2 linked regions of the Homo sapiens genome follow. The protein of the gene in region 2 purifies or fractionates together with the protein of the main gene of each other region. This does not show direct contact. Each region holds a gene or a part of one and is shown on either strand. Other genes may lie near its edges.

Region 1 (7,299 bases), on a different chromosome or scaffold from region 2:
AGAACAAAATCAGTTTTTAACATGTAGTTTATAAGAAAAATGGTTTTTACTAATCAACCCAAATCCTTTCTTTTTTTGAGACAAGGTCACCCTGTTGCCCATGCTAGAGTGCAGTGGTACAATCTCAGCTCACTGCAGCCTCGACCTCCCCAGGCTCAGGTGATCCTCCCACTTCAGCCTCCCAAGTAGCTAGGACCACAGGTCCACACCAACATGCCTGGCTAATTTTCTGTATTTCTTGTACAGACAGGGTTTTGTCATGTTGCCCAGGCTAGTCTTGAACTCCTGAGCTCAAGCAATCCACCTGCCTTGGCATCACAAAGTGCTGGGATTACAGGCATGAGCCATCATGCCCAGCCCCAAATGCATTTCTTAAGGATTTACCAAAATGGAAAAGTGGACAAACTAGAGAAGGCCAGAAAAAAGTAGCAGGTATGATTTGCTGCAACCCTGCCTCTAAAATTTGTCTTCAAAATATAAAACAGTTTCTATTTTAAGTTTGAAATTAAAAGGCATTTCATATTTTATTCAATAGTTTATAATACATGTAAATTTAATATTTATTAATGTTATTAGTCGGGTGGGAGGTATCTGGACAAAAAAAATGGACCACTGTCATCCACAAAGGATATGTTAAGTATAATGTAATACACTAAAACCTCTTCTAAGTTTGAGAAATGCAAACTAAAATAAAATCCAGAAGCCAAACACCATCACTGAGGAAAGATCAACATTACCACCGAGACCAAAGACAAGAACAAATGTATTCTAGAGGGCTATCACTAGGCGGGGGCAAATCTGTTTTTTCTTTTTTTAAAAAAAGAAATATTCTGCTCCATTTGGAAAGTTAATGCCACGCCATAAAATACATGCCAGAAAGCAAGCAGGTGAAGAAACAGCTTCTAGGTACCTTGTAATGAACCCAGTCAACAGCATCTCTTACATCCTGGAACATACTCCGGTAGGACATGAAGAGGTCCCCATCTTTAAATCCTGTTTCACAACTACAGAAAGATAAAAATAACATGACAGGGGATCCAAAACAGGGTAAACAAAATATATATCAAAAATTTCCCAGGGGACCCAAAGGTTCCATATCACATGGGTAAAGGCTGTGGCTAATGAGGAAAATAATTACTCCCTAATGAAAGTCCACTTTGACCACCAGAAATGGCTATAGTGTTCAATGGAATACAGTAATTGTGAACAAATACAAAGTGATAGAAGAATATATTGAATGGAAGCTAAAAGGCCAAAGTTCCAAAAATGTCAGGTTTTTTTATTTATCACTTTTTAGAAACAGGTTGAAGAAACATTTAAAACTTAAAATTGGTCATTTAGGTTCTTTCCACCCTGACTTTCCTGACACTGTCCCTAAGTACAAAGGTACTGTCCATTTTTTTATTTAGTTCAGTGACTCAGCTTTCCACCAAATTTAGTGTCTTCAAGTGGATAAAGCCCAAAGAGGATAAGAAGTTAGCCAACTCTGGTATATAGATGGCTAAACTTTCAGTATTGGCTATATAATTCTCCCTAAAGGGAGAGGATAACTTGTTTAAGACTTACGCAAAATTTTACTTCTGATAAGATACACAGTATTTATTCCTTAATCAAATCTTGCCTGGCCTGGGAATGAAATTAAATTACCATCCCTGAATGGCTCCTGGGTAGCTGCTGTGAAATGAGTTGGGGGGTTTTAGTGTAATTCTGCTTGGACAGATAATCATCACACAAACCTCCCACTCAGTTGTCACAATTAGCACCTCTGCTGGCCGTCTTCATTCCCAGGAGAAGCCAATCAGAAGTGGTGGCTGCAGCACACTGGCAAGGAGAGGGGCCGTGTGGGAGGTGAGAGCCTGCATGGAGCTGCTGGTGCTGTCCCATCTCTCAGGTTGGCAATGTGGCATCTCTCACTAGCACTAAATTCACTTTAGAAAAGCAGAAAAGACCTACAATGGCCAGTTCTCTAAAACCCTGTGCATTAATTTTAAAAATCAATTGGAAAAAAATAATTATAGTATATACATACCTGGTATATCTGGGACAATTAGTAAAAAAATCTACTAGGCAGGCCAACAGGTAGGTCTCTGAAAAATGAAGAACAGATATTCATAAGCTATAATGAAATAATTCAAACTTATTTCATTACCTCCCTTGAATACAGACTAATGGTCACAGAAGGGAAAGCATCAGTATAAATAAGCATAGAATGAATCTACCTGGTAGGTTGAATAGTGTGTTCAGAATGTAAAATCTTTCAGTATCATCTCGCTGGATAAATTTATTTGGATACTGTTCTCTAGTTTCTGGTCTGAAAGAAAAATTTAAAAATTAACTGATTTTTAAAATAACATTATAATAATTGGGAAATAGCATTATTCAAAAATTAACTCAAATATTTTGATGGCTATGTGCAAGACAGAATTCCGAATATTACGCATGGATAGCTATGAAGATGAACGAGTTCAGGTTCCAGCTCTTTATTTTTTTTAATTTTAATTTTTTTTTTTTTTTAAGACAGTCTTGCTATTTTAAGTCCAGGCTGGACTCAAACTCCTGAAGATTGCTCAAGCAATCTTCCCACCTCAGCCTCCCAAGTAGCTGGGATTACAGGTGTGATGTCCAGCTTAGGTTCCAGCTCTTAAAAGAGTTGTCAGTGTGGTGGGCGAGGTGGGTCACATACACATATAATTATAAGGTAAAAAATCACAACTACTACAAGAAAGGTGCAAACATTTATGAGAAAACCAAAGAAGGGAACACCATTTCAACTTAAGAGGTAGAGAGAAGCAAATGTGAGGACTAAGGAGAGGAAAATCTAGGAAGGATTCATGCACGTGCTGGTATATGAGCTGGGCCTTAAAGGCTAGGTGGACCAGTTGTGAAACTAGTCCAACTTGGGTAGAGAAAGGGGAGCAGAGAAAAATTAAGCTAGAAAGATGGGTTGAGGCAGATTAAGCTACTGTTTCTACACCATTTAGGGGCAAGAGGGTACTACTGACAGTTTTAAAGCAGAGGATAATCCCATCGGGGCTGAGTTGTAAAACAAAATTAAATTAGTGGCTGTTTTAGGATAAACTGGGGAAAGACAATGTGATGCACTCCAACAATGGCCACAAATTCTTCCTGTCTCTTTGTGATGCAATTTTGTGGCTCCTCCCATTAGAACTCAGTCTATTTCTCTATCCTTGAATATAGGCTTGTATAGCAGCAAATGGGATCCAAGCAGAGACCTAGAAAAACATGTGTGTATTGAGGCTTAATCTCTCTTGCAGCACTTGGAACCATGGACTACTATGTGCATGACAGTGAGATAGTCTGCTGGAGGATAGAAGGCTACATGTAGAAATGAAGCACTCGGCCAACAGCCTGTGAATGCCAGACATGTGCATGAGGCCATTGTAGATCAGATGCCAGGTCACCCACCAGCTAACCACAGACATGTGAAAGAGCATAGAGAGATCAGCTGTGCAACCCAGAATCACCCAGTTGACTCTCAGAATTTTTTCTTTTTTCTTTTTTTTTTTTTGAGACAGAGTCTCACTCTGTCGGCCAGGCTGGAGTGCAGTGGCGTGATCTCAGCTCACTCATATATTCAAGAGAGATTACCAAGGTAAAATAAGACCCGGCAAACTGAGCAGATTTGGCTGGGGGAACATTAAAGAGTCAAAGATGATGATGTCCATGCTAAGGTGTCTCTGAGAGGTGGTTGGTACGATGAACAGAAATATGAAAACTAGATAAGAAGTGATGTGAGAGTAGTTCTATTTTAGTGATACTAAGTTTGAAGTAAACTGATTTTTATTAGGCAATTAGAAACAAAGGTCAAGAACTTAAAAGAGATTCAGCCTTGAGAGATAACTGAGATCATCTACGTACAGATACTAGATGGAATCATGAAAAGTATTAGAGGAGATGAAACCACTTAGTGTGCAGAGAAGGAAGAGAAGAGACAGAACAGAACCATGAAGAAAATTCAAGGTTTAAAAGAAAAAAGCCAGTGAAGCAGAATTTGTTAAAGATGCAAAAACACTTCTAGAAGAAAACATTTCAGAGAAACTCAAAGGGAAAAATACTAAAATATAAAAATGCACAGTTCTGACAGTGAATACATGGAGATTAACAATGTAAATAAAGGAAATCAAATTTAAAGCTCACACTCAGAGTGACCTGGATTAATTCCTGCCTGGGTTTGTTAACTACAAATGGCATAAACTCTAGTTAGACATATAAAAATCACATTAGCTCCCTGTCTTAAGTCACTCTTCTGAGATGAGAGTTCCCAATAATGAATAACTTTGTAGAGTATCTTATCTTCTAGCTTTCCAAGATTTTCTTTAATAAAAGTAAGGTGGAAGGTAACAGTAAAAATATACTTTCTTCAGTTAGATTTAATAAGCTGACACTGTCTCCTTAGATACAATATACTTCCCTATTCCCTCCATCATTAAAGAAAAATTCCTTTACATAAAGATGGTTAACATTTATTAGGCAGTTAGAACCCAAATTGATTTATAAATATAGTTAGCAATTACATTGTAAACTTCAGTGTCAAATCACACTAGTATATATTTAAAATAAAAATCAATTTGGGGGAGGTAATATATCATAAAAGAAATGCTACACTTGGAATGGGAAGAAAACAGTTACAGCACAGATTACTACTAACTTTCTGTGACCCACAGAATAAAAATTTATCAAAAAATAAGGTCCTAACTCATTAGCAAAGCCTGATGGAGTCCTTCTTTTCCAGCCTTGTCTACCACTGTAATAGCTTCGATAACTTTCTTTCCCTCTATCTTCAGTCTCTTCTTTTCATGGGAATTTTAATTTTATTAATTTATTTTTATTTTTTTGAGATAGGGTCTTGCTCTGTTACACAGGCTGTACTACAGTGGCACCAACACAGCTCACTGCAGCCTCAACCTCCTGGGCTCAAGCACTCCTCCTGCCTCAGTCTCCCATATAGCTGGGACCAAAGGCATGTACCACCATGCCCAGCTAATTTTTGATATTTGTAGAGATAGGGTTTCACTTTATTGTCCAGGCTGGTCTCCTAGGCTCAAGAAGTCTTCTTGCCTTGTCCTCCCAAAGTGCTGAGATTATAGGCGTAAGCCACTGTGCCTGGCCAGCTTTTCTGTTTAACTCTAAAGACTGCACAGTGCTAAGTGCTATTTGAATGATTCTGCATTTACTCATAAATGACTTATTTTTGAAACACTATTAAATGCATTAGCAAAGGAGCTATGTGGAAACTTTATTGGCTTATTTAAGGGAAGAGAGGAAGTCTGTGGATCTTGAGTTGGAAATTTGATCGTAGTACTAACTTATCCAACTGCTTCTCTTTTCTTCTCTGCCTACCCCTCCCTTATAATACAAAAATTCCTTTTTAGACATAATAGAACCCTGGTTCATCTTCATTGAGATTCTGAGTTATGATGACAATATCTGTGTATAAAATAGCTTAAGTTACTAGTACAACCTGTAATTACTTCATATTCTAAATCCTGTTTCCTGATATTTTCATGGATCCTGAACAAACCCCCTCATGAAAGAAACAGTGAAAGAAATGTGGATGTAATCACTGGCCTGCTCAGATGTGTCAAGATGGGTGTTTACTTCACACCGTTCTCATGTATACATGGAAATCTCTGAGCCTGTGTAATGTCAGTAATGCCAACTAAAGAGTCTTAGATGCTTCAATTCTAAGGGGCATCCTGTGACCTCAAATCTAAAGGAAGCTCTGGTACAATTACAGTTGGTTTGTGCCTCTTATCACAAAAAAAGACATTGTCTTTTTAAACATTTCAATGTAGCCTGGTGTTTTTCCTATTCTGCCATCAAGAATGAATAGTAAATGGAAAAGTTACATAAGAGACTGACACACATCCTATTCTGGTTTTACGAGCTGTTGTTCTGACCTTAATACAATGTCAATAGTAAATAAGGTGGCATAACAGTAGAGAAAATGTATAACAGTAAAGCTATAGCTACAGAAGTTGTCAAATTGTGGCATTATGATTTGAAAATATCGGGACATTTCACAAAAAAATAGTAGATACTAAATTTCATCTGCTGTTTACTAGGGTAAAAAGTTCAAATTAGTGACAATAGTGGAAATATTTTTATTTTGAAAATAAAGCTTATTCTTATTTGTTTAAAATATTATTAGCACATATTCACTTTAACCTTATGTTTACATTTTTTTAATGACACAATCAAATGTCAGGATTCAAAGTTTAGATTCATTAGAATCTAAAAAACGTATTGGCTATTAAAAATCTCTTAATCATTTAAATTGCTATAGTTTAAAATTTTTTCAAAGCATTTTTATATACATACCTCTTCTGAACAGCTACCTGAGAACTGTATTAGAAAGAAGAAAATAAAAATCTTAGAATTTCAAATAAGTCAAAACTACTAAAGTTCTTCTGGGCAAGTTTTAAGATTAGTTTTGTTGTATGCTGTATAATTGGAAGGCACTTAATTTAAACAAAATGTAATTGCTAACTATATGTCAGTTTGGGTTCCAACTGCCTAATAAATAACTGTTAACTAACCTTATGTAAGGGAATTTGCTCTTTAATGATGAAAAGTAATAGGGAAATATATTACATCTGGGGAGATGATGTCATCTTCACATTGTTTGACTTTAACATTAGAAAGAGGCTAAAGGTTCTCTGTACTCACCCCCTTATAAAGTTAAATCCATGTGCACAGACCAAGAGGTTTCCATAGGCATCGACTTTCAAAAGATTTCCATACAGTGTGTCAAAGACAAGTCCCCTATGTGAAAATGAAGACATTATTGATAATGCAAAGTAATACAGGCAATAATTTTATGTAGTAGTATTTAATCATCATGAACCAACCTCATTTAATTCAAGCTTTGTACCAACTCAAAGTATGTCCTAATATAGCTAAAGTGAGTAAAATCTTAAAAACTAATTCTAAAGCAACTAAAAAATATTGACTCCGTCCAGACAGAAAATCATAATTGTTTTCTGTAAGGAATAAGTGCTTAATCAAACAAGGTATAAAAAACATTCTTCTTACTACACAGCTGGTACCATTCTAAAACATAGTCTTTTTTCTTGGACAACTGAGAAGGCTTATATTTTTCTCCATTAGATGCTGTATGTGGGATATATATGATAGCATCTCAAACATCATTTTCTTAATCTTAAATATTCCCTATCAAATCCAGAAATGGAAACTGCCAAGCTTCTATCATGTTAAGTGTATTAGAGAAACACGTACCTATTTGCCAACAGCCCCAAATAGCACCACCTGTGATTA
Region 2 (3,933 bases):
GCGTTGTAGTCCAGCTACGCCTCTGCGGCTCCGCGCGCTCTAGGGCGGCTAACGGCCCCCATCGAGCGCCAAGTTCAGCTTCGCGCGCTCCCCTTAGTGTTTTTAACGTGTAGCCCGGGCCGCTCCCATGATACACCGGTGTAGTCCCTGCCGCAACCAACCGCTTTGTGGTGAGGCGGGGCGGGGCGGGGCTGAGGCCACGCCTTCCAGCCCGCTGAGCAATCAGGATTTGGCTTTGGGGCCTCTGAGACAAGTACCCGGGCTTTGGGTTCCTCTCCTTCGTCCCTTCCACCCAATAAACCGGCTCCATCGGCTTGTCCTCTATTTCCCTGAGACTATGCTCCCTATTTTCTAGCTCAGGGGCCAGCAAATGTTTTCTGCAAAGGGCCAGGTTGTAAATGTTTTGGGATTTGCAGGCGGCAAAGACTCAACTCTGCAACTGTTTCAACTGCCAGTGTAGCGCGAAAGCAGCTATCACAATACTAAATGAATTAGCCTGGTTGTGTTCCAACAAATTTTATTTATGGACTCTTAAATTTCATATAATTTTCACTTGTCACATATAAATTTCACCTGTCATTGTCACAGAATATTATTTTGATTTTTTTAATCATTAAAAAAAGTAAAAACCACTCTCACAGCCCTTACATTAAAAAGGAGGTGGGCCAGATTTGGCTGCAGGTGGGAGTTTGCAGACCCCAGTTCTAGAGGGGTAAACTAATGGTTTAATGACCACAGCTGCTGCTCACACATCAAGACAGACAGACATGGGCCGGGCGTAGTGACTCATGCCTGTAATCTCAGCACTTTGGGAGACTGAGGCGGGTGGATCACTTGAGGTCAGGAGTTCGAGACCAGCCTGGCCAACATGGTGTAACCCCGTCCCTACTGAAAATACAAAATATTAGCTGGGCGTGGTGGCATGTGCCTGCAATCTCAGCTACTGGGGAGGCTGAGACAGGAGAACTGCTTGAACCTGGGAGGTGGAGGTTGCAGTGAGCCGCGATCCCACCACTGCACTCCAGTCTGGGCGACACAGCGAGACTCCAACTCAAAAAAACCCCAAAAAGACAGGCAGGGTCAGAAGTGTGAGTCCTTGATTCCAAGGTGGCAGGTGTAATCAGGGAGCTAAGAATTCATTATTTTTCTCATTCTTGGTCCAGTTACCTACAGAAATGGCTCCTGTAATTACAAGACCAGGAGGTAGGGCCAGGCCCTGGGGAGAGGAGAAGGGGCTGGCAGTGCAGGAGCGAGAGTCCCAGGGAATGGCCCACTCCCTGTTAGGGTGGGAGTTGAGACAGGTGCAGGCGCAGGATCTCCTCTGCCCGCTTCAGGTACTCAGCTGCCTTCTTCTTCACACCTTCCTGGCGGGCAGGCAACGGGTCACCTGTGGAGAGAGAATGCTCAGCTGAGGCACCTGGGCACCACTGGCCTGGTCAGAACCCCTGGTCGGGTCCTTTACAATTCGCAGAGCATCACCATGTGCTTTTCCCTCCTCTCTGGGGCCCAGCATCCATTCTCCTCAGTCTACAAATAAGAAAACTGAGGCCATGCTGGGCGCGGTGGCTCACGCCTGTAATCCCAGCACTTTGGGAGGCCGAGGTGGGTGGATCACGAGGTCAGGGGTTCGAGACCAGCCTGACCAACATGGTGAAAGCCCATCTCTACTAAAACTACAAAAATTCGCTGGGCGTGGTGGCACGTGCCTGTAATCCCAGCTACTCAGGAGGCTGAGGCAGGAGAATGGCTTGAACCTGGGAGGTGGAGGTTGCAGTGAGCCAAGATTGTGCCACTGCACTCCAGCCTGGGCGACAGAGCGAGACTCTGTCTCAAAAAATAAAAATAAATAAATAAAAATAAATAAAAAATAAAAATTCAAAAATTAGCCAGGCATGGTGGTGGGCGCCTGTAATCCCAGCTAGTCGGGAGGCTGAGGCAGTAGAATCACTTGAACCTGGGGGGCGGAGGTTGCAGTGAGCCGAGATTGTGCACTCCAGCCTGCAACAAGAGCAAGACTCTGTCTCAAAAAAAAAAAAAAAAAAAGAGGAAGAAGAAAACTGAGGCCACAAGAGGTTAAAAACAACAACAACAAAAAAACAGAAACAAAAATCTGCCCAGGTTACACAGCTGGTCAGTGAGGAGTAAAAGGGCTCCTGATCCGTGATTTGCTTGTTTTTTTGCTCCCTTCATCACTGCCCCACCTGGGACCCAGGCCTGACCCTCCACCCTCAGTCCCTACTCACTGGGGACTCCCTGAAGCAAGACGTGCACGCCGTCTCGATAGCCCTGGAGTGCAGCAGCGTAAGCGCCTGCCTTCTCATCCCGCAGGGCCTGGGTGATGAGCTCTGTGGCCTGGCTTAGGTAGGCAGGGGTGGGCCCTCCTTCCCCATCCTCTTCCTCCTCCTGCCCTCCTGGCTCCCAGGGTTCCTGGTCCAGCCTTGCAGACTCCACCTCCATCGTTGCCAGCTCAGCCACATGGGTGGGGCTGGGGGCTGCGCCTTCTGCAGTTAGAAAGGGAGGACTCGGACCAGACTGGCCCTTCCTTTCCCAGGCCCTCTGCCCAACCCCAAGACTTCTTTTGTCCATCAGGGTATCAGCCTGTCCCCAGTAGAGGGGACCAATGCCAGAGCAATCCAGAAGTCGTCTGTGGATCAAAAACTAGCCATGAGCTATTTGATCGATAGGGTTCATGTGCTTCTGTAAAAACAGCCTTACCTTCCTAATTATGTCTTTAGGTACACACTCTAGTTTGTAAGCTCTGGGTCACTGGTCCTATTTCCCTCTTGACTCCAGTTGACCTAGAAATCCAAAAATCCCCTCCAGAAAGTTTCCCTGAAGGATGCTAGGCCACCACCACCAGGCTGAGGGTAGAAATGCTCCAAGACTTGGAATAATCTTAGAATAGGAGACTTAGAGAATCTCAGGGGTTTTCTGAAGCCTTGCAGTTTCAGCTGAGGCCCCCAAATGTAAAGACAGTGAGTGACAGGTGTCCTCACATTTCCCAGGTAAAGGCTCATTATATCCCCCTGGACTGGCTAAAAGGGGGTCGGACATCCTACCTGCAGCTTACACACGAGGCGACTGGAAATCTGGTGCACCTTTGGTGAAAAGGCCTCTGAGGGGAAGGTGCGGGGGCAGGAAGCATCATGATACCCTATCATCCTGGAGAGGGAAAAAGTGGGTGCCTCTCTAACCCCATCCCTGTGAGTTCCATGAGAGCCCTGAGAAGTCCGGGCCTCCTGCAGGAGGGAGAAGGCACCTCCTGGCTGGGCCTACAGCCCTCCATGTATTGCTCAGGGAGCAGAGAGCAGAAGAGTACCTGGGACACCTGCACACTCGAGTTAAGGAGTTTGCTGTGAAGAAGGGAGACACAGGTGCCCACTCCTTGCCTCGAGAATTCTGGTGGTGAGAGGCTTGTTGGAGGTGCCCACCATGGCAGGGTAGGGAAATAAGGCAGTGTCTGAGCACACTGCAGTTCCAGGCTTTGGGGACTTTTCCCATGGGCTGAGTGAATGTCTCATTGGAGCTGTCTGTGAAGGGTCTTGAAAAGATCCTGGCTGGACACAGTCACTCATGCCTATGATCCAGCACTTTGGGAGGCTGAGGTGGGAGGACTACTTGAGTCCAGGAGCTTGAGACCAGCCTGGGCAACATAGTGAGATCTCATCTCTACAAAAAATCAAAAACTTAGCTGGGCATGATGGTGCATGCCTGTGGTCCTGTCCCAGCTATTTGGGAGGCTGAGGTGGGAGGATCGCTTAAGCCTAGGAGTTGGAGGCTGCAGTGAGCCGTGATCGCACCACTGCCCTCTAGCCTGGTGACAGAGCCAGACTCTGTCTCAAAAAATAAATAAAAAAAAATAAAAAAATTAAAAAGGAGAGGAAAAAAAATAGAAAAGCTCCTGCCCAGGCAGCTAGCTGCCCAGCAGGGACT

Evidence for each region.
Region 1: the proteins of SNX15 (region 2) and NT5C2 purify together in Homo sapiens (affinity purification with mass spectrometry; 2 studies listed by BioGRID and IntAct, with this or other methods). This does not show direct contact.

The regions. Positions count from the first base shown.
Region 1 is NC_000010.11:103,099,016-103,106,314, forward strand, and holds part of NT5C2 (cytosolic purine 5'-nucleotidase), read right to left. Parts: intron 6,787-7,299; coding exon 6,691-6,786; intron 6,367-6,690; coding exon of another isoform or gene 6,343-6,366; intron 2,312-6,342; coding exon 2,220-2,311; intron 2,088-2,219; coding exon 2,030-2,087; intron 1,950-2,029; exon of another isoform or gene 1,737-1,949; intron 1,667-1,736; exon of another isoform or gene 1,648-1,666; intron 1,005-1,647; coding exon 911-1,004; intron 1-910. UniProt on the Homo sapiens protein: Broad specificity cytosolic 5'-nucleotidase that catalyzes the dephosphorylation of 6-hydroxypurine nucleoside 5'-monophosphates.
Region 2 is NC_000011.10:65,037,140-65,041,072, reverse strand, and holds the end of SNX15 (sorting nexin-15), read right to left. Parts: intron 2,502-3,933; coding exon 2,244-2,501; intron 1,388-2,243; coding exon 1,281-1,387; 3' UTR 501-1,280; downstream 1-500. UniProt on the Homo sapiens protein: May be involved in several stages of intracellular trafficking. Overexpression of SNX15 disrupts the normal trafficking of proteins from the plasma membrane to recycling endosomes or the TGN.